Linked DNA regions of Homo sapiens: region 2 is linked to region 1. The links come from fine-mapping of genetic effects on gene expression. Tissue or cell type: whole blood. Region 1 holds a variant in brackets; the other region holds the start of a gene. All regions are shown on one strand. Distances are from middle to middle.

The links. PIP is the estimated chance that this variant, and not a neighbour inherited with it, causes the effect.
Region 2: RSU1 starts here. The variant in region 1 is fine-mapped to the expression of RSU1 in whole blood (TOPMed, PIP 0.99).

The regions. Positions count from the first base shown.
Region 1 is chr10:16,591,576-16,594,261 of GRCh38, forward strand. It overlaps RSU1 (Ras suppressor protein 1), which reads right to left. Exons shown (of 9, transcript NM_012425.4): 9 at 1-1,921. The coding sequence ends at 1,819. Among named protein-coding and RNA genes, the nearest start is that of C1QL3, 71 kb to the left of the region's middle. The variant T/C (reference allele first, on the strand shown) is at 1,338.
Region 2 is chr10:16,816,079-16,818,764 of GRCh38, forward strand. It overlaps RSU1 (Ras suppressor protein 1), which reads right to left and starts at 1,346. Exons shown (of 9, transcript NM_012425.4): 1 at 1,237-1,346; 2 at 895-1,006. The coding sequence starts at 1,003. It overlaps LOC105376435 (a long non-coding RNA gene), which reads left to right and starts at 1,621. Exons shown (of 3, transcript XR_930708.3): 1 at 1,621-1,678; 2 at 2,603-2,664. RefSeq lists enhancers at 825-984, 1,655-1,764, 1,795-1,884, 1,915-1,964.

The DNA.
Region 1 (2,686 bases):
TTACACATGGCTTCTTTTTGCTTTGATCTGTATACTTTTTAAAAATATTACCAGTGAGTCTTCGATGATTGCTTCATGTTTCTGGGAGGTATTTCGTTCCTGTGCGTTTCTGGAGTTTTCATCTTTTGAAAAAAATGACTCATAAGAGCCCTTCATATTGTTAGATTTTTACTAATGCTTTCTTGCTGGTTTAATTTTAGGTTAAGTCTTTCCTATCCACAACAGCAAAGGCCTTGTTCTCCCTCGTGCAATCTCAAAAGCTCAAAAGTCAATTAAAAAAATTCAGGCAGAGGCATACATGGCACCTATAAAAATGATATCAACTCTATCCCTAAACAGGGGATGGGACCTGGGGAAGCCACTTCCCACATTTAAATGTTCTATCAGGAATTTGTCTAGAAGCCAGAAGTTTAGACCTTGCTCTGTGGCCTCTCTGATTGAAATGCGAAGTCTGTTTCCTAAGTAACTCAGAACTTGTTGTTTGATTTTGATTTTTGACTTTTTTATATGCCCCAGTGGGTCCTGGTCTTGGGAGCTCAACTGGGAAGCCGAAAGGATACAGCAGAGATTTTATATGCCCCAGTGGGTCCTGGTCTTGGGAGCTCAACTGGGAAGCCGAAAGGACACAGCAGAGAAGGGCAGGCCCCCTCTCCCAGGCCATTTGACTCTCCCAGGCCATTTGAAAAGACGGTGCATCTTCACATACCATTTTTTTTGTGTCGGCCTTCTGGGGTTGACAGCCCTTTCAGTGAGCACAAAACCTCAGCTTGCATTTATTTTGATTTTCGTAGGTATCACTGTTGAAAAGAAGGAAAGCTGCCTATCACAGATGTTAAACAAACAATTGATTGTTTAATGACTCTGCAACTGTGGTTTCCACCCTGGGTGTGGTGTAGCGCGTGCACATTTACACAACTTCCTTGGCATCGAAGTCGCTTAGAAGAATGCTTCGATGCGAGCAGATTTTCCGCCGTGACAAAATACACAGTTGAGGTTTTTTCTCTCTCTCTTTCACAGTTCTTGTCTACCAGCCCCTGGCAGAAATCACCATTTCTTCGGCGAAGGAATGCTACTTTCCAAAATCCTTTGGCAGAATCTCCTAGAGATTTGTTTTTCTGCTTCCTAATTTAGAAAGTCTTCAAAGAAAAAAAAAACTTGACAAATTAATGTGAGAAGAAACGAACTGTGATTTAATTTTGCATTTCTTTCATGAAAAGTTTATCATGTATAACCAATAAAATTGGATAAGATGATTTTGGGGGAGAAAAGTAAATGAAAATGTGTTATACCCCAAGATCAGACTGTTCTTTTATTCTGAGTCAATAAGTAACATGTGA[T/C]ACAAACTCAAGATTTTATTAAAATCATTTGTAAGTTAAATTAGCATATCTCGGTGGTGAAGGAAGACTTTTAATAAAGCAAAATAATGAGTTAGGTGAATCAACAGAAAGAGTGAAAAGTGTTAACAGTGACATTTAAATGGTTACATGATTTTAATTATTCTTTTGATAATAAGCAACCTTGTGATATCTATTCAAGAAAAGCCAGAGCCCACTATGGAATTCGCAGTTGAATAAGAGCTTTGTTCCCTGCTTTTGGTAATGTTAAAGAAACAAATGGAAATGGTTTAAAGACCTTATAACAATCTCCCACCTAGCAAAAGAATCTAAAAGGTAAGGTGGGAAGCATTAGAAAGAGAGTGAAAAGAAAAATAAAAAAGGCCTCACACGCAGCATTGGGTTTATTTGAGAGACAGGGCAAGAGAGAATGAAGTGTTGGAGAGAGAAGGTGCTGGAAGGCCAGCCGATGCCAATCCCTTCCTTATCTGTTCTTGGCTGCCAGGGGTTTCCGGCTGATCTTTTTCGATTTGTCATTATTCTTCTTCGGTGGTTCTGGGTTGGCCTGCATGTGTCTGCCGTAGAGGCTGCAAAGACAGAGAAAGGACACTATCAGATCTATTTTGCCAACACAAGATAGCTTTCACTGGAAGAGCTTTCAGGAATAGAAGAATCTCCAAAAATATTCAGTAAGCCAAAGAAAACCAAAAGATCACTTCTGTGTTCTCTGGGTGCTACGCTGTGTTGAATATAAAATTCTCTTACACATGCACGCCATGCCATGATGTCCGATCACGGACCAGTCTCTTGGGATTTCACACTCACTGGGAGAAGTGGTCAGGCCCTGCTCAGCCGTTCTGGACTGAAGTTCAAAAGCTTATGAGTGTTTAAGTCGACAGTGATAAAAATGGGATTGAATGGAAGAGACAGAGTGTCCATTTAGTGAAAAGCGAGCATGATGCTTGGCCCGAAAGCCCAGGGGCTGGCTAATGGGACAGAGAGCAATGGTGTCCAAATCTGTGCTGGCTGCTCACCCATGATGGATAGCGTGGGGCTGGCCACCACACATCAATGCCACATTAATAAGTACCGCTGATTAAATGCTGACAAAGTGCCCTATAATTACGGTGGATGGCATTCATTGCGCAGCGAAGCTGGCTCCGTGGCTGAGAGGATTTAACTGAACAGCAGAAGGTAATTAATCGATAATTTATGAGTAATTCTGATTAAACCAAATTAAAAGCCACCCTAAAATAAATACAGCTCAAACTTAACTCCTTTTATTGATATAACTGTGTCTCCAAGAGAGCCTGGTGGGTGTCTCAGGTCCTCTGCAGCAAGGGCATACCCGG
Region 2 (2,686 bases), 220 kb after region 1:
ACGTCAGCCTGAAGAACTGCTTTAGCTCACTTATCACAGGTTTTTCAAATATTAGAATTAGTAGCCAACATCTAAAAATTAGCAAATTTCACATAAAAATATAGAATCTTGGTTCCTTTAAGAAAATAATCTGGCACATTGGGCCAACATTCCTATGGTGACATGTGTCTGAGTAGCAGGTGCAGCAGCTGGCCCCTTCAAGTGGGACACCTATCACCTAGTTCATAACCGCCCCTGACCGCCCTCACTTGGAGGCATGTGAATCTGCAATCCCTGGTTTTAAGGGAGAGGGTAACACCATAGACAGGGGTTACAGGAAAATGACACTGAAAGTGACCCAGTGATTAAACTGGGCAGTGAAACTGAAGGCAAGAGGGCAAGTTAGGAGGATTTCACCACAGCATGAGGAGGTGACAAAAGCCTGAACCAAGTTCGGAGAATAAATACTCAGAAGAATGTAAAGATTCAAGAAATGCTTAAAACGCTCCAGGCACAAGAATGCTTATTAACCATGGAACTTTTCTGTGTCATTTGTTCATGGACAAAGACTGTATTAGGAGACAGGAAGAAGGACTCAAAATTAATTTTCAATTTATAATTAAAGTGACTATTAAGCAAACTGTGGAAAATCCACCTCAATGCCATACAGCAGAGACAACCGATGAGGCACAGCTGTCTGTGTGATTCTCATCGTGGACTCTCAGGATCGTTTTCCAGGTGGAACAGAACAAATCCTACTGCAAACCCTCTGCGCGAAGCCCCTGACAAGTGAGGTTTACAAGCAGGGGCTGGGGTCTAAACCAGTACAATCGCTCACAGCAGGACCAGCAGTGAATTGGCAAACTTAGAAAGCCTTCCAGCTCATCCACGGGAGAGTCCTGCCCGAGAACTCACAGAGGCCGTTGACATCCAGCATGTTGGAGATGCCCCGGTCACTCATGTCCACCTCGGGCTGGTTCTTCTCCCGGCTCTCCTCCACCAACTTCTTCAGAGACTTGGACATGGTCTGCACCGAACAACAACAAAGCACGTGGGCGATGACAGCAAGCGCAGAGGCGGAAAGGCAAGAGGCCTTCGCTGCCACTCTGAGGCTTCCCCAGGGTTGGAGCGGGTGGGCGTCCGAGGGCGTCCCAGGGGCTGGTCCGGGTGCGGGGAGGGGATGGAGTGGGAAGGGTTCAGCCCCGCTGCGGCCACGCAGCGAGAAGCAACCCCAAGTGCAACACCGCACACACTCACCACGGAAGGTAGCCCCTAAGACGATGGGCGTGCAACCACAAGCTTCGGCAGAACGCACTCCAGCTGCCCTCACTCCCTGCAACACCGGCACTGAACAGCGAACACGCCCTGTCTCGGCGCCCCGCGCAGGCGCACACAGCGCCGCTGCCAGCTCCACGCCCGACCCTACCCATATTAGGAGAACAGCTCTCCAGACGTGTCTCCAGGGCCAGGCTCCGCCCTTAAAAGTCTGTGGAAGAGGCTGGCTAATCACGTTCGTTATTCGGCTTCGAGACCCCGCCCCACGCTGAGGATAGTTTATCCCGGTGGCGTCCACCCCACGGTTTGGGACGCTGATTGGGCCGAAGTTGGCGCGTGCGCAGTAGACTTGGCGCAAGCTCAGTTGATGGGTCGAAGCCCAGAGGGCTGTGGGCGGAAGTGGGGAAGTTTGTGGCGTGACTGTGTAAGGGAGGGTGGTGGCTCAGGGTGGGTGTTGCGAAAGCTGGAAGTAAATTGCTTCCGAATGTTTCGCTTGTGTAATAGCCGCTCCACTCGCCAGAAGTTGCTACCCTGAGCCCGTCTCCACAATGTGCCTCTGAGGGACCTTGTGGGGCACGCAGTTTCCCGCCCTATTAAGAGCTTCTCCAGGCGGGGATTCCGGCGCGGTCTGCGTTTCCCCAGCGCCCTGCTGGAAATCTTTTTTGACAGGTTTCTAAGGCTGGCTTTTAGCCTTTTTACTTGTAGCTAGAACCTACAAGTAAAACCCTACTATTTTAAAAGTCATTTGAAAACACCACTAAAGCGATGTGTCTTTCCCAACTAGGACTTTTACATTTGTGAAACATGACGTTCTGGCTTCCAGGAATCTCTTGCTTTCTCTTCCAAAAGCAACCAAATTTTAAATTCTAGAGAAACTGTTGCCCTCTGCCTCCCTATTTCCTGACCCAGTCTCAGTCACCCAGCAACATCCTGTGCTTCTCTCACCAAAAACCCTGTCCTGAGAGACTATTTTATACTATGGAATAAAAATTGGCACCAGGCACTTTTCTTCTACTGGTCACCTAAATTGATGATAAGACGGATGCCACACATATGCATTTATATATTGTAGATTGTAGCAGGGATCAAAGCCTTAAGGAGATGTGGTAAAATAATGTAATTATATCTCCGAACCAATTGGATAAAAAAAGGATCTGCACTCTTAAATTCGAAAGCAGGTATTTCTTGCTTAAAAAACATTCCAGATGAAAGAGTTATTCCTCCATTAGTCTTCTTTGATCTGGAACCGTCCTTGGCTTTTATGTTTATTGAACTAGACATTATTTAAGAATACAGACCAGGTATTGTGTGGAATATCCTTCAAAGTAAGTTTGATGTTCCCTTTCAGGTTATGAATTTTTGGAGAAACACCACTAAAGCGATGTGTCTTTTCCAGTGCATGATATCAAGGTACAGATGGCATCGGTTTCTC